Linked DNA regions of Homo sapiens. The protein of the gene in region 6 purifies or fractionates together with the protein of the main gene of each other region. This does not show direct contact. Each region holds a gene or a part of one and is shown on either strand. Other genes may lie near its edges. The genes, in order: TMLHE, OCIAD1, SLCO5A1, TARS2, MCCC2, NIPSNAP3A and CYP24A1.

Region 1 (3,500 bases), on a different chromosome or scaffold from region 6:
TATAATTTAGAAATAGAATGTATATTACATTTCTTAAAAGTTCGTATCTTTGTATTTAGAAATTTCAAAGATATAAACTTTTAAGAGTTCTGATATACATAATCAAATTACTTTTTAGAAAGTCTACTTATCTTCATTCCCTCCAACAGTACATATGTGTCCATCAAAATGGAGTATTCTTATTTTTAAAATATATTTTTTTCTAATTTGGTAACTAAAGTGGAACTGCTATCTTGTAATAATTTTAACTTATTTGCTTACTAAGGCTAATAAGAATACTTTCTATATTTGTTAGACATCTATGTTTCTTTAATGCAGGGACTACCAAACTATGGTTGATGAGTCAAATCTGGTGCTTGGTTTTGTAATGCCTGTTTCAGAACACATGCTGTCCATGTTGTTACATATTGTCTATAGCTCCATTCACTCATATAGCCCACAAAGTTTGAAAATATTTACCATCTGGCTCTTTATAGAAAATGTTTGCTGACTCCTGCTTTAATGATTTGTCTGTTCAGTCCTTTCTCACATTTTTCTATTGGAACAATTGTACTTTTCTTCTTTTTTTTTTTTTTTTATTATACTCTAAGTTTTAGGGTACATGTGCACATTGTGCAGGTTAGTTACCTATGTATACATGTGCCATGCTGGTGCGCTGCACCCACTAATGTGTCATCTAGCATTAGGTATATCTCCCAATGCTATCCCTCCCCCCTCCCCCGACCCCACCACAGTCCCCAGAGTGTGATATTCCCCTTCCTGTGTCCATGTGATCTCATTGTTCAATTCCCACCTATGAGTGAGAATATGCGGTGTTTGGTTTTTTGTTCTTGCGATAGTTTACTGAGAATGATGGTTTCCAATTTCATCCATGTCCCTACAAAGGATATGAACTCATCATTTTTTATGGCTGCATAGTATTCCATGGTGTATATGTGCCACATTTTCTTAATCCAGTCTATCATTGTTGGACATTTGGGTTGGTTCCAAGTCTTTGCTATTGTGAATAGTGCCGCAATAAACATACGTGTGCATGTGTCTTTATAGCAGCATGATTTATAGCCCTTTGGGTATATACCCAGTAATGGGATGGCTGGGTCAAATGGTATTTCTAGTTCTAGATCCCTGAGGAATCGCCACACTGACTTCCACAATGGTTGAACTAGTTTACAGTCCCACCAACAGTGTAAAAGTGTTCCTATTTCTCCACATCCTCTCCAGCACCTGTTGTTTCCTGACTTTTTAATGATTGCCATTCTAACTGGTGTGAGATGATATCTCATAGTGGTTTTGATTTGCATTTCTCTGATGGCCAGTGATGATGAGCATTTCTTCATGTGTTTTTTGGCTGCATAAATGTCTTCTTTTGAGAAGTGTCTGTTCATGTCCTTTGCCCACTTTTTGATGGGGTTGTTTGTTTTTTTCTTGTAAATTTGTTGGAGTTCATTGTAGATTCTGGATATTAGCCCTTTGTCAGATGAGTAGGTTGCGAAAATTTTCTCCCATGTTGTAGGTTGCCTGTTCACTCTGATGGTAGTTTCTTTTGCTGTGCAGAAGCTCTTTAGTTGAATTAGATCCCATTTGTCAATTTTGGCTTTGGTTGCCATTGCTTTTGGTGTTTTGGACATGAAGTCCTTGCCCATGCCTATGTCCTGAATGGTAATGCCTAGGTTTTCTTCTAGGGTTTTTATGGTTTTAGGTCTAACATTTAAATCTTTAATCCATCTTGAATTGATTTTTGTATAAGGTGTAAGGAAGGGATCCAGTTTCAGCTTTCTACATATGGCTAGCCAGTTTTCCCAGCACCATTTATTAAATAGGGAATCCTTTCCCCATTGCTTGTTTTTCTCAGGTTTGTCAAAGATCAGATAGTTGTAGATATGCGGCATTATTTCTGAGGGCTCTGTTCTGTTCCATTGATCTATATCTCTGTTTTGGTACCAGTACCATGCTGTTTTGGTTACTGTAGCCTTGTAGTATAGTTTGAAGTCAGGTAGTGTGATGCCTCCAGCTTTGTTCTTTTGGCTTAGGATTGACTTGGCAATGCGGGCTCTTTTTTGGTTCCATATGAACTTTAAAGTAGTTTTTTCCAATTCTGTGAAGAAAGTCATTGGTAGCTTGATGGGGATGGCATTGAATCTGTAAATTACCTTGGGCAGTATGGCCATTTTCACGATATTGATTCTTCCTACCCATGAGCATGGAATGTTCTTCCATTTGTTTGTGTCCTCTTTTATTTCCTTGAGCGGTGGTTTGTAGTTCTCCTTGAAGAGGTCCTTCACATCCCTTGTAAGTTGGATTCCTAGGTATTTTATTCTCTTTGAAGCAATTGTGAATGGGAGTTCACCCATGATTTGGCTCTCTGTTTGTCTGTTGTTGGTGTATAAGAATGCTTGTGATTTTTGTACATTGATTTTGTATCCTGAGACTTTGCTGAAGTTGCTTATCAGCTTAAGGAGATTTTGGGCTGAGACGATGGGGTTTTCTAGATAAACAATCATGTCGTCTGCAAACAGGGACAATTTGACTTCCTCTTTTCCTAATTGAATACCCTTTATTTCCTTCTCCTGCCTGATTGCCCTGGCCAGAACTTCCAACACTATGTTGAATAGGAGCGGTGAGAGAGGGCATCCCTGTCTTGTGCCAGTTTTCAAAGGGAATGCTTCCAGTTTTTGCCCATTCAGTATGATATTGGCTGTGGGTTTGTCATAGATAGCTCTTATTATTTTGAAATACGTCCCATCAATACCTAATTTATTGAGAGTTTTTAGCATGAAGGGTTGTTGAATTTTGTCAAAGGCTTTTTCTGCATCTATTGAGATAATCATGTGGTTTTTGTCTTTGGCTCTGTTTATATGCTGGATTACATTTATTGATTTGTGTATATTGAACCAGCCTTGCATCCCAGGGATGAAGCCCACTTGCTCATGGTGGAAAAGCTTTTTGATGTGCTGCTGGATTCGGTTTGCCAGTATTTTATTGAGGATTTTTGCATCAATGTTCATCAAGGATATTGGTCTAAAATTCTCTTTTTTGGTTGTGTCTCTGCCCGGCTTTGGTATCAGGATGATGCTGGCTTCATAAAATGAGTTAGGGAGGACTCCCTCTTTTTCTATTGATTGGAATAGTTTCAGAAGGAATGGTACCAGTTCCTCCTTGTACCTCTGGTAGAATTCTGCTGTGAATCCATCTGGTCCTGGACTCTTTTCGGTTGGTAAGCTATTGATTATTGCCACAATTTCAGAGCCTGTTATTGGTCTATTCAGAGATTCAACTTCTTCCTGGTTTAGTCTTGGGAGAGTGTATGTGTCGAGGAATGTATCCATTTCTTCTAGATTTTCTAGTTTATTTGCGTAGAGGTGTTTGTAGTATTCTCTGATGGTAGTTTGTATTTCTGTGGGATTGGTGGTGATATCCCCTTTATCATTTTTTATTGTGTCTATTTGATTCTTCTCTCTTTTTTTCTTTATTAGTCTTGCTAGCGGTCTATCAATTTTGTT
Region 2 (3,500 bases), on a different chromosome or scaffold from region 6:
CAGCTACTCAGGAAGCTGAGGTAGGAGGACTGCTTGAACCCAGGAGGTCAAGACTGCAGTAAGCCATGATTACACCACTGCACTCCAGCCTGGGTGACAGAATAAAACCATCTCAAAAAGAAAAAACAAACAAACAGAACAAAAAAACACGAGAAAAACCCAAATGTACAAGAAAATCAATCTCATTACTCAATCATTCTGTGGTTAGGCCACAAGTGGTATTACAGCGCAACGCCAACCTCAGGTCACTACAGCAACTTATGCGATAGATGTATCATTAGGAAAATAAGACTATCAGATCTCCAAGGAGATTTGTTGTAAGAGAGAAACAGTCAAATGAGTATGTCTCTACCCTGTGTTAAACTAATCTTGCTGTCTTAAGACTTACTATTTGGACTTCACTATTTTCTTCCTTTTTTTGGCGGGGGGAGGGGGGAACAGAGCCTCGCTCCGTCATCCAGGCTGCAGTGCAGTGGCGTGATGTCGGTTCACTGCAACCTCTGCCTCCTGGGTTCATGCAGTTCTCCTGCCTCAGCCTCCCGAGTAGCTAGGATTACAGGCATGCACCACCATGCCCAGCTGATTTTTGTATTTTTAGTAGAGACAAGGTATCGCCATGTTGGCCATGCTGGTCTCCAATTCCTGGCCTCAAGTGATACACCCAGCTTGGTCTCCCAAAGTGCTGGGATTTCAGGCATGAGACACCACACCTGGCCTTGACTTCATTATTTTCTAACACAAAATGGCCTTTGGAACACCTTAAAAATGGAAAACTGGCCGGACACGGTGGCTCAAGCCTGTAATCCTAGCACTCTCAGAGACTGAGGCAGGCGGATCACAAGGTCAAAAGATCGAGACCATCCTGGCCAACATGATGAAACCCCATCTCTACTAAAAATACAAAAAATTAGCTGGGCGTGGGGGCCTGTAGTCCTAGCTATTTGGGAGGCTGAGGCAGGAGGATTGCTTGAATCCAGGAGGCAGAGGCTGCAGTGAGCCAAGATCGTGCCACTGCACTCCAGCCTGGCGACGGAGCAAGACTCCGTCTCAAAAAAAAAAAAAGAACTGATAACTGTAAAGTACTATTTTAAAAATATTTTACTTTGGTTAATTGCTTGAAGAGTTAAATCACATATTAATTAATTTTTTATAGTATTGTTTTAAAGTAATGTTTTAGTTTCCAATCCTCAACAGTAAAGTGATTCAGACTAAACTATCATACCTTCTTTTTTTGGCACTCTTTCATGCATAGGCCTGACTGAGGGGTCAGTCTTTTGTGTTAAAGATACTTCATATGACTCTCTGTTCTTATTCCTTAATTCCTCATATGTAATATTTTTTCTTTTAGGACTTTCTTCAAGGTTGGGATCAGGTCCTAAAACAACAAACAGTTAATAAATGGTAATAAAAGGATTTGTATAACTCTAAAGCAACTAAATTTTACAAATGCTCCTTACAAAAGGAGCTACAATCAAAATAGAATAAAGAATCAAATTATTACCACCATTTCACAGGTACTATACTTTCACCAAGATAATCATCAAACTGAAATCTACTTCCACCCATATTTTTAAGCTTTTATTTCTAAAAATTAAAATGGACATCAAAAATTTTAAAAACTAAACCACAGCCAGAAGAAAAATATGTATCATAATATATAACAGTACAATTTAAACTCATTAAAATACCAGTGTTTTAAACTGGAGTTACTCATACTGTATACAGAATTAAAAGAGAAATATATTCTACTAGGGACAACTGAATAAAACTTGACATAGCATAGATTTTACTCAATATATAGTTAAATAGTCCTATAACCACAGACTCTATGAAAACAACTCCAGCTATTTTCAAAAATCATTTATTTTACCTTTTTACAAAATTTAAACAAAAATACTGAAAATAGGCCAGGCACAATGGCTCACAACTATAATCCCAGCACTTTGGAAGGCCGAGGCGGGCGGATCACCTGAGGTCAGGAGTTCAAGACCAGCCTGGCCAACAAGAAACCTCATCTCTACTAAAAACACAAAATTAGTTGGGCGTGGTGGCACACACCTGTAATCCTAACTACTAAGGAGGCTGAGGCAGAATCGCTTGAACCCAGGAGGCGGAGGTTGCAGTGAGCTGAGATCGCGCCATTGCACTCCAGCCTGGGCAACAAGAGCAAAACTCTGTCTCAAAAAAAAAGGAAAAAAAGTTGAAAATAATTACTTGAAAAGTATAAAACATAGCCTTTAATCAGAATATGTGTTGTTTTCATTCCAGTCTAACAGATGCAATGTTGATGCAGAAGAAAGTATCAACTGTTATTTTGGCCTGGGAACTAACATTTATTCTTTATTTCTCCCAAAGAGAGTCAAAATGTGAATATTACATATTATCATAGAGTCAAATGTAAATATAATGCAGTGGTTACTCCTAATATTGGTTGACAGGATCAAATAGTGAACATAGTTTATACAATTTATAAACAGCAAAAAAGGCCATATGAACATTAAAAAAAAAAGATGCTAACATTCAGTGAACAACTACTTAACTTACAAAGTCTTACCTACCACATACCACACCAAAAGTACTGTTTTTCAAAGATGTTTTCAATAAGACATACAAATTGGGCATATACTTTTAATATTAACTTTTTAAAAAATAATTTTTGTGATACTTATTTAGAACTCAAAGGTAGGATCCCAGTGAATAATCAGAATTTTCTAAGCAACATAACTATACATTAAATAATGTTTTCAACCATAAACTTTTTTTTTTTTTTTTGAGACAGAGTCTCACTCTGTTACCCAGGCTGGAGCACAGGGGCACAATCTCGACTCACTGAAACCTCCCCCTGCCAGGTTCCAGTGATTGTCCTGCCTGAGCCTCCCAAGTAGCTGGGATTATAGGCATGTGCCACTATGCCCAGCTAATTTTGCATTTTTAGTAGAGACAGGGTTTCGCCATATTGGTCAGGCTGGTCTTGAACTCTGACCTCAGGTGATCCACCCGCCTCGGCCTCCCAAAGTGCTGGGATTACAGGCATGAGCCACTGCACCCAGCCATTTTCAACCATAAACATTTATTCTGCTAAATAAATATATACTATACTTATATAAAGCAAAGAGGATTTAAATTTCTCCTAATTAGTTCTAGTATTATATGATGGTTCAAAACTACATTTTTCTTACTAAAAAAAGAATGTAAAGAAAAATATTATAACCTTATATTGGGATTAAAACACTTTGCATTTCATTAGTAATAAGTAATTACTGAACTCATTTCCCTTCACCATATATGTTATATTAAAAATTCTGAAGGAAATCGTGTGTACTTCAGGAACCTTGGGTTCTTAACCCCACTCTGCTGACAATTAGGAAATGTCCTTGGGCAAATCACTAAGCTTCTTTGAATCCTGGTTTTCTCAATTGCGAAATATGGTAGTTTGAGCAGATGATCTCTGAAGTTCCTTCCAGGTCTAATACTTTTTCTTATAAAAAATATTTTACCAT
Region 3 (3,500 bases), on a different chromosome or scaffold from region 6:
TTTTTAAAACTCTTTTTCTGCTTCAGAATTTGGGGGGAAATGAAAATTGGCTTGTTGGCCCAACTAGACTTTTTCACAATCCATAGAAGTTAAAATAAAGTTGAATTAAATAATAAATGTCTGAAATGTTCTCCCTCCACTTATTCTTGATGCTGTAGCATACATCTGTTGACTCACCTTTACCTCCAAATCATATCAAATGACCCCAACTCCACGGCATCAGAGAGGGGCAAAGCAAAAAGAAGAAATTATCTTTTTCTGGCCAGGCATTGTGGCTCACATCTGTAATCCCAGAACTTTGGGAGGCCAAAGCGGGTGGATCACCTGAGGTCAAGAGCTCAAGACCAGCCTGGCCAACATGGTGAAACCCCATCTCTACTAAAAAAAAAAACAAAAAAAAAAAATGCAAAAATTAGCCAGGCATGGTGGCAAGTGCCTGTAATCCCACTTACTTGGGAGGCTGAGGCAGGAGAAACACTTGAACCCTAGAGGCAGAGGTTGCAGAGAACTGAGATTGTGCCACTGCCCTCCAGCCTGGGCAACAGAGCAAGACTCTGTCTCCAAAAAAAAAATACATATATATATACATATATATTTCTTTTCTTATTCAATTACCCCTTTGGTTAACAAATCTCCTTATTTCTAAATGTTATTTCTAAATAATACTGTTTAACTTTTAACAAGATCTATAAGACTGACTTTTTTTTTTTTTTCAGACAGAGTTCTGCTCTTGTTGCCCAGGCTGGAGTACAGTGGCTCCATCTCGGCTCACTGCAACCTCCGCCTCCCAGGTTCAAGCAATTCCCCTGCCTTAGCCTCCTGAGTAGTTGGGATTACAGGTAGGCACCACCACACCCAGCTAATTTCTTTGTATTTTTAGTAGAGATGGGGTTTCGTCACGTTGGCCAGGCTGGTCTCGAACTCCTGACCTCAGGTGATCCACTCACCTCGGCCTCCCAAAGTGCAGGGATTAAAGCATTAGCCACTGCACCCGGCCTAAGGCAGACTTCTTCACTATATCTAAGTGTGTCAGGATTTCCTTTAAACAGCATGTTTTTTAAAAAATGATAGCCTCAGAGTCTTATTAGTACTGAAAAAAACAAGCCACTCATTAAATGGAACTAGAAGCATTTTCCTCCTGGGGCTTATTGAAAATGCTCATTCTTGGACTGGGCCATCAACCACAACATATGACAAATGGAGAATGCCAGGGGATTCATGCTTCAGGGGGTCAGAAGATGCCCTTTTTAAACATTACCTCTTCAAAACTGAAATAAGAAATTTGAATCAAAAAGCAATTTTTTTGTCTTGTAGACAATGACACTGATTACTGAGGAGAAAATAACAGCTGAAGGAAATGACAGACTGCCACTTGAGAAAAAGACATTATAAAAGGAAAAATAAGCTTGATGACAAAGACGTCAATTTAAAATACATTGAAACTGATCAAAGGAATGTTGTATGTTACATGCTTATTTCCCATTGTCTCAAGAACTCACAGAGGGATGTGGTGTTTGTAAAAATAAGACCTATGTTCCACCCGTACAAATGTACTCTGTGGTTTATCACATGGACACAGCACTACTGAGCTTCTCTTGTTGATAAGTAAATACTTACAAGGCAGTCCCTATATGTCACTTTGGAGACCTTTCTTTTCCTTTTTAAAGTTTTTTCTTTTTCTCAGAAAACTTGATAGGTATACTCTTTGTTTAGTCCAATAAAATTACTGTAAAGAAGTGAGGCATTGAAAACTTCACAAATAAAGACCAATTTCTACTGCTTTCATAGTAAAAAGGCATAAAGGGGTCAAAATGCTAGGATTACAAATTCTTCACAAATTGCTTGATTTCCTATTTCTTACTGTGCAAAATTCTGGGGAATTTTGTCCAAGTTTATGTTCATAATGAAAAAGAAACTAACCTAACGTTGGTTTTGTTTTGTTTCATCAAACAACAGAACCTGTCAGCTTCTAGTTCAAATCAGAAAACAAGGAAGTTGTACCCTCACCACTAGCCTGTAAAATCTTATTCATGGTAATAAATGACATGACTTGCCATTTTTAAAGGACAGTGAAAATTTGCCATCTGCAAAGAGGAACTAAGAGGTACACTTGGAAATTCAGGGACGTACCAAGTGTTCGCAACAAAACAAACTGCATTCCCAGTGCAAAAGGTCTCTCCTCATCTTCTACGGACCTACAGTGAAGGGAAAGAAGGAAATGCATTTTAAATAGTAGCCCCAAGAAAATGAATGTCAAATCAAGTCGGCTTTGTGCAGAGCCAGGGACTAAAGATGCCATGCCAAAATATTTAATTCACTATTATTTACTAACAATAGCCACACAAGATTGCTGGTGGCTAAATCCCTGAATAAAGGTTTTCCCAATGTAGACATCAAAGAAACTCTGACTATCTCTAATTGTTTCTACAAAAATACTGGTAGAGGGTTAAAGGCTTTTGGCTGAAGAAGCTGGAATGCCTCTAACTGAGCTTCCAAAATCAGATCCATTTTTTTTTAATTATAGAATTTCATCTTAAATACTGCACGGTTTTTTTGTTTTTGTTTTTGTTTTTGTTTTTTTGCCTGTGTGCCTGCATCTTCCAGAGTGGTAGATGCATACATTGAAAATTACTCCAATAATTCTTCCAAAACAGGAAGAAAGAAGAGTAAAGAATAAAAGTATATTCAAAAAATGTATAGGAAACAAGTCAAAGATCAGAGGAAGCATAAGCCCTCCAACCACATCTTTTTTTCTTTTTTAAAAACTTATACTCCAAGTTATTCCCATGTGACAGGAAGATTGGAGTCAACTGGTTCTGTAATTAGCAAAGATTAAAGGGCTCCTTTTCTGAAATTTTAGGTTAGAAGCCAACTGGCGATTTGCCATTTATGAACACCAAAAGAAAAAGTAGCCAATGGGTTATTTAACATCTCTTGAGGAATTAAAGTGCAAAGAATAAGATTATTTGAGTAAATTTATGAATGATTCATGTCTTTTTAATGCTGCAGTACCTTAACCTCTCCATCACATACCCATGAGAGTATGGTATATAATAGGAACTTTCCCAAGACCAGTGCCCTTGTCACCTTTTCCCCAATTTCTTTATTTCTCAGAGCAATTTGCAAAGTGCTGCACACAGGTTGTTATTCCATAAATATCTGCTGCTGGAAGAACTGAGTAAACAAACCAGTGGGCCTTTCATGCACTACTATCTGGCTGTCAAGGAACAGCTTTGCTGGGAAATGCCTGATTCAGCACCAAGTGGGAAGGAAGCCAGAATACATCTGGTGCAGCCAACTGCCCTTGCTAAGCAATGACATCTCAGCAGGTGCTTCCTGCAAGGTGCCCAGCATTGTGGCATCTGAGGAGCCTGGAGAAAGAGTAAGAACTGACTCCCTTTCTTCATTCCTTCCCTGCACTGCACCCCCTAATCCCCCCTAATCCCCTTCCCTGCACTGCACCCCCTAATCTGGGCAGAAGCTGCCCAGACCCATGGGTG
Region 4 (3,500 bases), on a different chromosome or scaffold from region 6:
CCTATTAAATACCAGGTCCCATCTCTATGCTCCCCGACTGCAGACCACACAATTGTAGTATTAAAGGTCACCAGCACTTTCAATATTTATGTTTATGATTCCAAACCAGCCCCCCCACCTTTTTTTTTCTCTTCAAGACGGAGTCTCACTGTATCACACAGGCTGGAGTGCAGTGGCTCAATCTCAGTTCACTGCAACCTCCCCTTCCTGGGTTCAAGGGATTCTCCTGCCTCAGCCTCCCCAGTAGCTGGGACTACAGGCGCTGCCACCACACTGGCTAATTTTTTGTATTTATTTTAGTAGAGACAGGGTTTTGCCATGTTGGCCAGGCTGGTCTCGAACTCCTGACCTCAGGTGATCTGCACGGCTCAGCCTCCGAAAGTGCTAGGATTATAGATGTGAGCCACTGTGCCCGGCCCCAACCCCCATCTTTTAACACAAACACCTTAGCTTCTTCTAGTCCCTCAGCCCCTCCCTGGTCTTCTTTCCTCTAGACCTGGGTCCCCTTACCCTGATAAACGCCACTAGTGCATTATACACCCTTGTCCCTCGTGGCAGGAAGAAGCAGCTCCCAGGGCTCAGTTCATGGAAGAAGAAGAGCTCCTGTTCCTGGGGTCAGGAATAGCAATATTGGGTCACCTCAAGGGCAAGGAGGTGGCTTTGGAACTCAGAACAACTGACGGAGCTGCTCAGTCTGTGTGACTGAATCTGCTCCCAATTTCATAATCAGGTTCTGTCATCTCTCTCCAACCCTTATCACCATCCCTCCCTATCTTCCCAATTCCTGTACCTTCCCAATGCGCCGGTGGTCCCGCAATTCTGCTTCCTCCCTCCATGCTTCCCAGACCCTCAGCAATTCTGTTGTGGGGAAGGAAATCCCTGACACTCTCTGCAGTGTCTCTGGGGCCCCTGAAGACCTCCATAAGGATGATGAGTTCTGTGTGAGGACATAGGGGATCAAAGGAAAGATGAGGACTGAAGGCCCCCACCTTTTTCAAGACTCAAATGATACTCTCAGTGTTAAGTGTCACAGGTATGCCTCTTGACAACAATCCCACCAGTAGGATGAACACCTCCATCCTCTAGACACCATTCTTCTAGATTAAAGTGTTGAAATTGCCTGACTCTTAATTCCTACATACAACCTGGTCAGGCCTAACCTTACCTTGCCATCTCTTTTTCTCCCCATTCTCATTACCCCTTTACTTAGTTCCTTCCCATTCTAATCAATGACTGCTTAGAGGAATAACCATAAGCTCTGGTCAAATGTCAGTCTATTCCTCCATTTATCAATATCCTATACAGCTGCTAGAAAAGTCAGTCTTCTATACCATATCCCATTCCTGGCCACATGAAATCCAAAAGCCTCTGCCTGCTCTCTCCTTTAACAGTACTAATGAGCCGGGCGCGGTGGCTCACGCCTGTAATCCCAGCACTTTGGGAGGCCGAGGCGGGCGGATCACGAGGTCAGGAGATCGAGACCATCCTGGCTAACATGGTGAAACCCCGTCTCTACTAAAAATACAAAAAAATTAACTGGGTGTGGTGGTGGGTGCCTGTAGTCGCAGCTACTCGGGAGGCTGAGGCAGGACAATGGCATGAACCCGGAAGGTGGAGCTAGCAGTGAGTCGCGATCGCACCACTGCACTCCAGCCTGGGCGACAGAGCAAGACTCCATCTCAAAAAATAACAAACAAACAAACAAACAAAAAAGTACTAATGAGAGGCCGGGCGCAGTGGCTCACACCTGTAATCCCAGCACTTTGGGGGGCTGAGGTGGGTGGATCACAAGGTCAAGAGTTCAAGACCAGCCTGACCAACATGGTGAAACCTTGTCTGTACTAAAAATACAAAAATTAGCCAGGTGTGGTGGCACGTGCCTGTAACCCAGCTACTCAGGAGGCTGAGGCAGGAGAATTGCTTGAACCTGGCAGGCAGAGGTTGCAGTGAGCCGAGATCAGGCCACTGCACTCCAGCCTGGGCAACAGAGCAAGACTCTGTCTCAAAAAAATAAAAATGAAATAAAATAAAACTGTTAAACAGTACTAATGAGAAACAGTCTATACGTGTGTGTGTGTGTGTATATACATCTGTCACCCAGGCTGGAGTGCAGTGGCGCGATCTCGGCTCACTGCAAGCTCCGCCTCCCAGGTTCACGCCATTCTCCTGCCTCAGCCTCCCAAGTAGCTGGGACTACAGGCCACCACCACCACACTCGACTAATTTTTTTTTTCTTTTTTTGAGACGGAGTCTCGCTGTCGCCCAGGCTGGAGTGCAGTGGCGTGATCTTGGCTCACTGCAGGCTCCACCCCCCAGGGTTCACGCCATTCTCCTGCCTCAGCCTCCCAAGTAGCTGGGACTACAGGCGCCCGCCACCTCGCCCAGCTAATTTTTTGTATTTTTAGTAGACAGGGTTTCACCGTGTTAGCCAGGATGGTCTCGATCTCCTGACCTCATGATCCGCCTGCCTCAGCCTCCCAAAGTGATGGGATTACAGGCGTGAGCCACTGCGCCCGGCCACACCTGGCTAATTTTTTGTATTTTTAGTAGAGACGGGGTTTCACGGTGTTAGCCAGGATGGTCTCGATCTCTGGACCTCGTGATTCACTCGCCTCAGCCTCCCAAAGTGTTAGGATTACAGGCGTGAGCCACCACGCCCAGCCCCTATATGTATATTTTTTGAAACAGAGTCTCACTCTGTTGCCCAGGCTGGAGTGCAGTGGTGCAATCTTGGCTCACTGCAACCTCTGCCTCCCAGTTCAAGCAATTCTCCTGCCTCAGCCTCCCGAGTAGCTGGGACTACAGGTGCATGCCACCACGCCCAGCTAATTTTTTATTTTTAGTAGTGACGAGGTTTCACCATGTTGGCCAGGCTGGTCTTGAACTCCTGAGCTCAAGTGATCCGCCCAACTTGGCCTCCCAAAGTGTTGGGATTACACGTGTGAACCACCGCACCTGGCCGACAGTCTGTATTTTACAGCACTTTTTAACTTTTCCTTTTTCCTGAATTAGTTGGTTTTCATTATCTTTTTTTTTTTTTTTTTTTTTGAGATGTTGTCTCGCTCCGTGGCCCAGGCTGGAATGCAGTGGCACAATCTCAGCTCACTGCAACCTCTGCCTCCTGGCAGAGTTCAAGTGACTCTCCTGCCTCAGCCTTTTTTGTAGCTGGGATTACAGGCGTAGGCCAGCACACCCAGCTAATTTGTGTATTTTTAGTAGAGACAGGGTTTCACCATGTTGGCCAGGCTGGTCTCGAACTCCTGACCTCAAGTGATCCGCCTGCCTCACCCTCCCCAAAGTGCTGGGATTACAGGTGTGAGCCACCATGCCTGGCCTGGTTTTCATTATCTTTATGAGGTGAATTTACTGGTAGGACAAAAAGGAATTAATAGCCTCATTTTATAGATGGGGAAAATAAGTAAGATTTACCCAAGGCCACCGCGCCATGGGGTTTTGCCATGTTGGCCAGGCTGATCTCAAGTGATCCACCCACCTTGGCC
Region 5 (3,500 bases), on a different chromosome or scaffold from region 6:
ATACCCAGAATTACATGGAGAACTTAGAAGTCCCATCTGTGCTCAGGACCCTCCTCTGGAGTCTAGTCTGGGGTGTGTTCCAGGCATTTGTATATTTGTGAAAGCTCTACAGATGATTGTAATGTGCAGCCAGAATCAGGAACCACTAATTTAAAAGGCAAACATGGGCCTCTGAAAATCTATGTTGTATATTGACTTAATTTGTTTATTCTTCCTTTTCTTCCCCCAGCCCAAGATTTCTCTACATTTGGCCAAATGCTCGTATCTCAGTGATGGGAGGAGAGCAGGCAGCCAATGTGTTGGCCACGATAACAAAGGACCAAAGAGCCCGGGAAGGAAAGCAGGTCGGTGTCGTTTTCTCTTGTTTCTCTCTGGTTTTGCCTCTCACCATAAACACCCTGGAGCCAAGGAGCAGCGTGCCTGGAAGCCCTTGGTGTTCATGGCTGGGGACCTGGCGCACACTGCCTGGCCATATTTAGACTGTGCTGCCCTGGAAGTTGTTCCAGCAAATCACATGATTTCTGTCCTTTATCTTTTTAAAGCCATTTCATTTGGGGTACTTTCTTTGTGGCCATTTAAAATTGTTTCAGAATTTCCAAGAAAACACTTTTTTATTTTATTTTTATTTATTTTTAAAATTTTTGAGACAGAGTCTCGCTCTGTCACCCAGGCTGGAGTGGAGTGCCGCAATCTCGGTTCACTGCAGCCTCCACCTCCTGGGTTCAAGCAATTCTCATGCCTCAGCTTCCTGAGAAGCTGGGATTACAGGTGTGTGCCACCACGCCAGGCTAATTTTTGTATTTTTATTTATTTATTTATTTATTTTTGAGACAGAGTCTCGCTTTGTCGCCCAGGCTGGTGTGCAGTGGCACGATCTCGGCTCACTGCAAGCTCCGCCTCCCAGGTTCACGCCATTCTTCTGCCTCAGCCTCCCGAGTAGCTGGGACTACAGGTGCCCATTACCATGCCTGGCTAATTTTTTTGTATTTTTAGTAGAGATGGGGTTTCACTGTGTTAGCCAGGATGGTCTCGATCTCCTGCCCTTGTGATCCACTCGCCTTGGCCTCCCAAAGTGCTGGGATTATAGGCTTGAGCCACCGCGCCCGGCCTAATTTTTGTATTTTTAGTAGAGACAGGGTTTCACTATGTTGGCCAGGCTGCTCTCAAACTCCTGACCTCAAGTGATCTGCCCACCTCCCAAAGTGCTGGGATTACAGGTGTGTGCCACCATGCCCAGCCAAGAAAACACTTTAGAAACTGACAGTAAGTATCTGAGGCATAAAGATGTTTGATTCTTAGTCATTTGTACTTAGTGAGATTTAAATAAGTCTGATGTACTACTTTGATTTTATGACCAAAAGCAGCAGAATTTTGTTCTTTCTATTTTACTTTTAGATTGTTGTTAAGGATACCCTGAGTGGGAGGGCTCCGTCATCTATTGAGAATTGAATAACATTATCCTGTGTATAAATGAAGAAAAATGGAAAGGGCAGTGGAAACTTGATGAAAGGCAGATCAGCAAGCGGCTGCTTTTAAAATGAATTCTTTTGTTTGTGTCTCTGTTGGAGATTGTTTGAAATTTTGCATTAATTTTTATTAGTTACAACTTTTAACTCCTGTGTAAGCACCAAGTATGAAGATGATGGTTGTGTGTTCCTGAAGTTGCTTAGGTACACTGTTGTCTCATTATGGGAAGGGATGGAATGGAGGGAGCCCTGTCTGCTCTGTGCAGGAATCATCAGGTCTTCCACCTAGATTGTGGAGTGAGGTACTGCCTCCCTGAATGCATCCATCCATGCCTCACATCCCTAGTTGTCTTTTCCAAGCACTCGGAACTCTGGAGACTTACATTGAGGTTTCAGATTCACTTTAGTACCTACTAGTATCAAAGGAAACAGATAGCTTTGCTTTTGTGCGAGTGGTTGGGGTGTGGGTGTGTGGGTGGGGGAGGTGAGATATGAAATTCTACCTGATACTTCAAAGACATGTCTGAAACTCTATGAAGCCTAGCATGGTGATCTCTTATTAAGTAGTTGTTCTTTGATTACTTCAATATACAGATACTTGAATTCATTCATTTTTATACAGGAAAGGAAAGCACAGTGTGTTAATGGTTCTCCCTCAGAATTCGTGACCTAGAAAATGATATTAAGGTATTAGCATATTTACGTAAAAGAAGGTAGAGTTTATTTGAAATAAGTCTTTGTTTCTGCTGTCGAGTTGCTTTTTGAGTTGAAAGTATTTTTCAGGGTTTCAAATTAAGTTCTGAAGATTTTTACATCTGAATTAATTATCACTTGATCCTTGTAATACTGATGGGAAGGCTGTGAAATTCTTAATTAGGGGAAAATATCTCTCAGTTCTCTGGGAACTTGACTGAAAAGGTTATTCAAGATTTGGTTGGTATTTTACCCCTTTAAGCTTAAACATTTAAGCTTAAGTTTTAAATTTTGGCTATTTTAAATGAGAATCTCATACTTTTCCACATTCTTAACTGGAGGTTGCTAAGTGTAATGCAGCCCTTTTGTTGGGTTGTATAATTCACATCTATTATTGTACCTTGCTGTGATACACAGTACCCTGGGCTTTCACCTTACGTGAAATAGCCTCAGGATATTGTCTCTGTTAGGAGAGATGGGATGGGGCACTAACTTGATACTCATGTCTTAGCGTGTATGTTAATGATCACTTGTAATTTATACATCACTATGCACATGTTAGATGTAACATTATTATTCATGACATCTGTTGTTTCTTTTGAATTGAGATGATCTAAACAGGGCCAGTTGTTCACTGAAGCTGACTTACTCATGGCCTCTTTTCCTTTAGTTCTCCAGTGCTGATGAAGCGGCTTTAAAAGAGCCCATCATTAAGAAGTTTGAAGAGGAAGGAAACCCTTACTATTCCAGCGCAAGGTGGGGGCCAGAACATCACTAACTCTCTGATGGGTGCAGATGGCAGTCAGAGGAACAGCTTTACAGAGCTCTGTGTAGTTGAGATGGTCCAGCATTCATAGGAACTGGAAAATAACATTTGGACACACTTAATTTTGTACTGTTGTTTCTTTACAATCTGAATGGCTACTGCTGAAATGCCACCCCTCCTCCCAGCATCCCTGCACTGTGGACTCACCACCAGTGGTCTGATTCTCGCTTCCCTTGTCTTCCCCCTAGTTGAGGTGTCTGGGGCCTGGAGGGGTCCTGCAGCCCAAGGTGGGCCATGTTAGGAGCCGAGAATAAGTTATAAGCTTGGCTGTGTTACTTCAGAAGTTCTAATTTTTGCTTAAAAACCCCTCTCCTTGATCATTTTGTTTTTACCCCATTTTAAACATGAGATTGGTTGAACACTTACTGGCATTTGTTGACAAGTATGCTTGTACGTTTGAAAGGTGATTAGTCACTGCCAGGGTCTGTGTGTCGGCGCCAAATAATTACCTCACAGACCATTGCCGCTGTTGGCTCGGTTTTTTTCTTACACCACTTAATGAGGTAATAAATTAT
Region 6 (3,500 bases):
ACTCCTACCCTGTGGAGTGTGCTTTCATTTTCAATAGATCTCTGCTTTTGTTACTTCATTCTTTCCTTGCTTTGTGCATTTTGTCCAGTTCTTTGTTCAAACACCAAGAACCTGGACACCCTCCATCAGTAACATATTGAGAATTGACAACAGAAGTACAAACATGAGTAATGAGTCTATGAGTGTCCCTTGTACCAGATTCAGATTAGGTTTTAACACAATATAATGAATCCTGTCTTCTCAAGATATTTACATTTGTCTTATCTTCTTCAGATGTGCTCATCTTTTGCTACGGGACCCAGACAATACGATGGAATATTCTATGAATTTCGTTCTTATTACCTTAAGCCCTCAAAGATGAATGAGTTCCTGGAAAATTTTGAGAAAAACGCTCATCTTCGGACAGCTCACTCTGAATTGGTTGGATACTGGAGTGTAGAATTTGGAGGCAGAATGAATACAGTGTTTCATATTTGGAAGTATGGTAAAGAGTCATCCAATTTTGGCTTTCAGTATAGATTTTCATTTTTCAGTATAGATTTTCATTCTGTTAAATGTAACATAAAACTTAGTTCTTGGATGTATATTATTTTAGATACATACAGGTTAACTAAGACTTTTGAAAAGCAATACCAAAAAAATAAATTCAGTTCTTATTCTTCCCAGTGGTACACCTCTAACCCCTTGCTTAAACATTACATTATATTACATTATAAATTGGAAGACATGGCATCTCATATATCAAGCGATAAAATTGTGAACTAGACTTTAAACCTCAGAAAAATATTAAAATGGTTTGCTGTAAAGATAGTTCATGAAAAATTTAAAGCAGCAATTGTAAAAGTCCAAGTGGATTAAGATCACAAAAGGAAAGGAGAAGTATCTTTTCTCTTTTTGAAGCTAGGGGGCTGGATATCAGTATTTTAGCAGAAATAATTCAACCATTTAAGGGACTTCACAATATGGAGGTTTATAGGGGATGATGGTTAACTTTCAATCCTCACTGAACTCTGAGATTTAATAATTCTGTTATGTTTAGAGACCACATTTGTTTCATATCTGTACCCCCAGAGTTTTGAGGAATTCACTGTCATACTACTCTAGGGAGGTAAAAGAAAAGGAATGAAAGAGAGTTCTTCCCGTGTTGAAACTAACCTACGCCTGGTTTAGTAGAGGAAGGAGAATAAGTTACAAGAATGCCCAGAATGCTTGTTACTCCAGTGTCTACATCAGGACTTGATGATACCTAAAGAATTTTTAATAATTTCATTTAGTGTTTGGTTTAGGGTTTTTCCCTGTTAATAGAAAAAGCCCCATTAAAATACATTTTATGCTTTAGATGTGGTACAAGTTGTATCACAGCCCATTAAAAAAACTAAGTTCTGATATACCTCACTTAAGTTGTAAGATAGGTATTCTTCCTTATCCCAATGTAAACCATATGAACCTCTCTTGCCATTAGTCTTATGAGGTCCTAATGGTAATTATAGTACTAGGCCCATATGTTGGCAAATGTATATAACTGTTTGGGTAACTTAAATAGAAGAGAAATAAGTGCTGGGGAGAAAGAATGGATGACAATAAGAGAATCAGCATTATTTCTTTGAAATCTGTTTGTTCAAAGGAGAAGAGGCTTAAAAAGTACGGTTTAACTTCACTCATGTTAAATTTGATTCAAGATGTTTTAACTTCACTCATGTTAAATTTGATTCAGGGTGTATCTGAACTTGACTACCCACCACCACCAAAGAAAAACAGTCTTTCTCTAAACTAGCACTATAAGTTAAATGCCTCAATCAAGTAAGAATAGTTCACATATACTGAGTATTAACTAGTGCCAACCGCTATATTCTAAACTCTTTTCATGTGTTAATTTAATCCTCATACAACCCTGGAGGTAGATGTCTTATTATCTCAATTTCACAGAAAGTGAGGCACAGAAAGATTCAATAACTTACCTAATTCACAAAACTGCCTACTATATGGTTGAGCCTATAAAGCCTATTATGTGGCATTACAGTTAGTTTGCATTTCTACTGCCCTTTTTGTCCTTGAGCAACTTCAGGGCAGATGGTCACATCTGTTTACGTTGGTGTCTCCAAAGGCCTAACACAAGGTTCTTATATGGCATCAATGACCATTGCTGATGTGAATGAAACCCAGAAAAGTACAGGTGATTTAAAATTGAATTTTTTATTTTTCTTAATTCTTTTCTTCCCACAGATAATTTTGCTCATCGAACTGAAGTTCGGAAAGCCTTGGCCAAAGATAAGGAATGGCAAGAACAATTCCTCATTCCAAATTTGGCTCTCATTGATAAACAAGAGAGTGAGATTACTTATCTGGTACCATGGTGCAAATTAGAAAAACCTCCAAAAGAAGGTAAGTCCTTCCTTCTTAGTCACTGAGTTTTGATGAATAAAATACTAAAGAACTTAAGTGATCAAAACTGAAGTTCCTTTGGAAAAAAATAAAATTAATTCTTTGTTTTATATAGAAACATACAGTGATTGTTGTGGTAAAAATAAATGGGAGCTCTTACCCCATCCTTTAAAAAAATGAGCATAAAATAATGAGATATTTTTCAAATTGAGACCTTGCAGATTTGTAAAGCTTAACTGTGTTATAGAGAAAGCTGACATGGTCAGTAGAGGTTGAGAATTTGTGCATTGGGAGCAGAGAACGTGTTGATAGGTAAGGGATAGCATAAGAAGTTTTGCCATAATTTTAAAATAATATGATCTTTAAAATGTAAAAGTATTTCCATAAATTATAACTAATCTTAAATCATTAAATACAGCTTTGCTTATAAAACTGAGTATTTGGGGGAAACAGATTAAGTGAAACTGCCAAGCTATATTACTTTAATCTAACTTTTGTGTCTTCTTTCTTGTTTCTCAGTTTGAAAGTAATTGCTTAAGATTTGTCTTCTTGCTGATTTCACTTCTTGCTGACTTAAAGAAACTATTACCTCAATCCAGTTTTAAATAAAGGTCAGATTAGAAAAGCATAAACTTATTTAAATGTTATTTTACTTCCCCCATTATTCCCAACTTTGTAGTGTATTTAGGTTACAAAAAATTTACAAAGTCTTCCTTGGATCTTTACCTACTTAGGTGTCCCCTCAGCTCTCAGCACTATCTAAATAAAATAGTTCACTTCTCTGACAGTGTCAAATCTTGGTTCTCCTCCTCTGTGTACATCACTGCTTGGAAATTTTTACATGCTTTTCCTACTTGTCCCAGAGTTTCTTTCTCTCCACCAGCCCTATACTTCTGTCCAAAGTGTACAATACTTTTCAAGTATTTACCTGGATATTTAGGAAAAATAAAACCATCTCTTTAGGTTTGTCTTTTTTCCTCCAAAATTCAAAGATATCACTTCAGGTCCACTCTTTGCTTTGCTGTTCCTGTTAAAAATGGAAACTTATAGGGAGAAATTATATGAAGAAAAACATAGTGGAAATTGGAAAGAATGAAAATATAGATTGGAAAATTCTT
Region 7 (3,500 bases), on a different chromosome or scaffold from region 6:
GTGCAGTGGCTCAGTCTTGGCTCACTGCAACCTCCGCCTCCCAGGTTCAAGCAATTCTCCTGCCTCAGCCTCCTGAGTAGCTGGGATTACAGGTGCCCACCACCACGCCCAGCTAATTTTTGTATTTGTAGTAGAGACTGGGTTTCACCGTGTTGACCGGGCTGATCTCAAACTCCTGGCCTCAAGTGATCTGCTCGCCTGGGCCACCCAAAGTGCTGGGATTACAGGGGTGAGCCACTGCACCTGGCCAGATTTTACTTTTAACCACTCTTAATTCCCAAAGAAGACTACAGAAAGCTTGTTACTTAGAATTTGTGTATGCTGGGGCAATCCCCAAAACACCTGTGTTTGCAAAACCTAAATGTGGTGATGAGGCTCAGGAGATCACTCCAGACCTCCTCTCTGAAGCTCCAGACACGGGGGTGCTGGGCTGGTTCTGGCTGGTTGTGAAGGGCGGCCCTTTACCTGATTTGAAAATGGTGTCCCAGGCCAGAGTGTGGTCCTGCCAGACCTTGGTGTTGAGGCTCTTGTGCAGCTCGACTGGAGTGACCATCATCCTCCCAAACGTGCTCATCATCTGAGAGAAATGCAAATGCCTTTTTATTCTGAATTCTCCTTCTCTCAAAGACAATGTTCGTTCTGGAAGAGGAACATTCTAAACCGCAGCACCCTGCACTTTTTAAAAGGCTGGAATTACAAGGACACCCCCGGCTCTCTCTGCACCGGTCCTGGGAGCAATGCCCGTACCCCACCTCCACCTCCTTTCAATATTGAAGGTAATGTGGGGGATGATTTTCCACTGGATGTGTTTGATAAAAATTGTAATCTTATGACCTAATTGTAAAAAAAAAAAAAAAAAGAGGAAAAACGATAACTTTCATATTCACTTCAATTTCTAATAATTTCCAAACTTCAGTGATTTCCAAACCAATTTCACAGCGTTTATCCTATCTACACGCCACCCAAACTATTCAAAAAGATAAAATCTGAAAAATTTTGGGCTCTTTTTAAAAAGTATTTTTAATCAACTGATCTTTAATTAAAATAGCTATTTTAACCTTGCCTAAACAAAGAAATAATGGATTTAATGTGCTTCTTTATGTTACGTGCATATATCCAGGGGTCCCCAACCCCCAGGCCGTGAACCAGTACTGGTCAGTGGCCTGTTAGGAACGGGGCCGCGCAGCAGGAGGTGATCAGCGGGCCAGCAGGTGTTACCACCTGAGCTCTGCCTCCTCTCAGATCAATGGCTGCATTAGATTCTTACAGGAGTGTGAACCCTATTGTGAATTGCCTATGCGAGGAATCTATGTTCCACACTCCTTATGAGAATCTAATGCCTGATGATCTGTCACTGTCTCCCATCACCCCCAGATGGGACTTTCGTGTTGCACGAAAACAAGCTCAGGGCTCCCACTGATTCTACATTATGGTGAGTATATAATAATAACAGAAATAAAGTGCACAGTAAACGTAATGCACTTAAATGATCCTCCCTCCCCTGCCCCACCACCCTGCCCTGTCCATGGAAAAATTGTCTTCCACGAAACTGGTCCCTGGTGCCAAAAAGGTTGGAGACAGCCGCATATATGCACATAAATATACTAAAATATATAATGCACATTAAAATGAACACTTAACTATTGAAATAAAATATGTGTGTATGCCATTTTTTGGGAATCACTGTGAAGTTCTGTAAAAATCGATCTGTAAAACATCAATCAAGAAAACTGCTTTCTTAAAGAGGCTGCTTACTGTTTTGATGGCCATGATGAAGTTCACAGCTTCATCCCCTGCATTCTTCTGGAGAAGCCCAAATCTCTTCTCATACAACACGAGGCAGATACCTGTCATTTAAAATAATCATCACTTTACACAAACAGCAATGCTGGAGTTGGAGTCTATGTTTAGCTGGTTATTAAAGACTCAATTCTATGCCTCTTAAAAGTGTGGGATTTTCTGAGAAAAGGCAACAGTCCAAGAATATTGAGGAAAAGCAGAGTCTGAGAGAAAGGGGACACCATCACTTTCTTTTTCTAGAAATTATCTCCAGGTCCAATGACTCATCACCTCAGAGTGTCATGATCAGAGATCCACTGTCCTGATCAAGTCACACAGGAGATCCAGGGGCCCTAGCAAAGGTGCTGCAGGGTCGGGTCTGCACTCTGCCTCTAACCCAGCTGTGTTTTTAGAGTCACTTATTGGATTCTATCTCCTGACATAATGAATTGGAAGCCATTCACCAGAGGAAGAGAAGGGAAGGGAATAATTATGTTCTAAACACCCATTACACGCCAGGTACTGGGCTAGCACTTCATATAGGGTTTTTTTTCCTTCCATTTCATCATTTTATTTAGAAGGAACCTTTTTACAAATAAAATTCTCAACTCTTCATTTCAAAACTTTTTACCTAGAGAAAAGTTGAAGGAATGGTAAAATGAATACCTGAATCCCCCGAACTCATCAACATCTTGCTGCCATTTCTTTCTCTTTGTGTGTATGTATGCATACAAGTGTATACGTGGTTGTGTGTGCTGAAGCATCTGAAAATAATTTTGAGCTCTCAGGTCACTTCACCGTTAAATACTTTAGCAGTAATGTCCTAAGAATAAAGCATTCTCCAACATAACCACAATGTCATTAACATCCCTAAGAACCTTAGCGACCATTCCATAAAAAATCTACTGTGTCCCATTTTAAAATGTTCCCCATTGTCCTAAAAATTATCTCTTGTAACCTTTTTTTTTTAAAAAAAGGACACAGGGCCGAGCGTGGTGGTTCACACCTGTAATCCCAACACTTCAGGAGGCTCGGGCAGGCAGACTGCTTGAGCCCAGGAGTTCGAGAATAGCCTGGGCAACATGGCAAAACGCTGTCTCTACAAAAAAATAAAAATAAAAAAATTATTCAGGCATGGCTACATGTGCCTGTAGTTCCAGCTACTCTGGAGGCTGAGGTGGGAAGATCTCTTGGGCCCAGGAGGCCGAGGTTGCAGTGGGCCGAGATCATACCACTGGCCACTGCACCCTAGCCTGAGTGACACAGTCTGGAAAAAAAAAATTATACAGGATTACTGCAACCAACTTTTTAGTGGTGGATAATTGGCTCTTGACTTATAAAGTAGGAGACTAGCATTAAAAAGGTAAACAAATGGCCTAAAATCATAAACCTGAGGAGTGAGAGTCAATTAGCTTAGTCAGCACCCACCCACAGCTTTTCCAACTACCTCCATGTTTTCCAAACTCTACTTATTTCTTCCCAGCCTTTCAAGGTTTCCCCGTATTTGTGTTCCACAGTGGTTGGCAGGTACACCACTGGGAATATGTGAGATAGCTCTGGATGGTACATGAACTTTAAAAATAATTAGTTACTCTGCTGGGCACAATGGCTCATGCTTGTAATCCCAGCACTCTCAGAGGTGGAGGTGGGAGCATCATCTGAGGTCAGGAGTTTGAGACCAACCGGTGGCAAAACCCCATCTCTACTTAAAAAACACAAAA

What was found.
Region 1: the proteins of NIPSNAP3A (region 6) and TMLHE purify together in Homo sapiens (affinity purification with mass spectrometry; one large-scale study listed by BioGRID and IntAct). This does not show direct contact.
Region 2: the proteins of NIPSNAP3A (region 6) and OCIAD1 purify together in Homo sapiens (co-immunoprecipitation; one large-scale study listed by IntAct). This does not show direct contact.
Region 3: the proteins of NIPSNAP3A (region 6) and SLCO5A1 fractionate together in Homo sapiens (co-fractionation; one large-scale study listed by BioGRID). This does not show direct contact.
Region 4: the proteins of NIPSNAP3A (region 6) and TARS2 purify together in Homo sapiens (affinity purification with mass spectrometry; one large-scale study listed by BioGRID and IntAct). This does not show direct contact.
Region 5: the proteins of NIPSNAP3A (region 6) and MCCC2 purify together in Homo sapiens (affinity purification with mass spectrometry; one large-scale study listed by BioGRID and IntAct). This does not show direct contact.
Region 7: the proteins of NIPSNAP3A (region 6) and CYP24A1 purify together in Homo sapiens (affinity purification with mass spectrometry; one large-scale study listed by BioGRID and IntAct). This does not show direct contact.

Annotation. Positions count from the first base shown.
Region 1 is NC_000023.11:155,515,453-155,518,952, forward strand, and holds part of TMLHE (trimethyllysine dioxygenase, mitochondrial isoform 1 precursor), read right to left. Parts: intron 1-3,500. UniProt on the Homo sapiens protein: Converts trimethyllysine (TML) into hydroxytrimethyllysine (HTML).
Region 2 is NC_000004.12:48,855,088-48,858,587, reverse strand, and holds part of OCIAD1 (OCIA domain-containing protein 1), read right to left. Parts: intron 1,376-3,500; coding exon 1,223-1,375; intron 1-1,222. UniProt on the Homo sapiens protein: Maintains stem cell potency. Increases STAT3 phosphorylation and controls ERK phosphorylation. May act as a scaffold, increasing STAT3 recruitment onto endosomes. Involved in integrin-mediated cancer cell adhesion and colony formation in ovarian cancer.
Region 3 is NC_000008.11:69,674,479-69,677,978, forward strand, and holds part of SLCO5A1 (solute carrier organic anion transporter family member 5A1), read right to left. Parts: intron 2,196-3,500; coding exon 2,131-2,195; intron 1-2,130.
Region 4 is NC_000001.11:150,493,919-150,497,418, reverse strand, and holds part of TARS2 (threonine--tRNA ligase, mitochondrial), read right to left. Parts: intron 938-3,500; coding exon 791-937; intron 610-790; coding exon 511-609; intron 1-510. UniProt on the Homo sapiens protein: Catalyzes the attachment of threonine to tRNA(Thr) in a two-step reaction: threonine is first activated by ATP to form Thr-AMP and then transferred to the acceptor end of tRNA(Thr). Also edits incorrectly charged tRNA(Thr) via its editing domain.
Region 5 is NC_000005.10:71,649,840-71,653,339, forward strand, and holds part of MCCC2 (methylcrotonoyl-CoA carboxylase beta chain, mitochondrial isoform 1 precursor), read left to right. Parts: intron 1-229; coding exon 230-344; intron 345-2,829; coding exon 2,830-2,915; intron 2,916-3,500. UniProt on the Homo sapiens protein: Carboxyltransferase subunit of the 3-methylcrotonyl-CoA carboxylase, an enzyme that catalyzes the conversion of 3-methylcrotonyl-CoA to 3-methylglutaconyl-CoA, a critical step for leucine and isovaleric acid catabolism.
Region 6 is NC_000009.12:104,750,683-104,754,182, forward strand, and holds part of NIPSNAP3A (protein NipSnap homolog 3A), read left to right. Parts: intron 1-273; coding exon 274-484; intron 485-2,223; coding exon 2,224-2,382; intron 2,383-3,500.
Region 7 is NC_000020.11:54,163,987-54,167,486, forward strand, and holds part of CYP24A1 (1,25-dihydroxyvitamin D(3) 24-hydroxylase, mitochondrial isoform 1 precursor), read right to left. Parts: intron 1,848-3,500; coding exon 1,756-1,847; intron 578-1,755; coding exon 466-577; intron 1-465.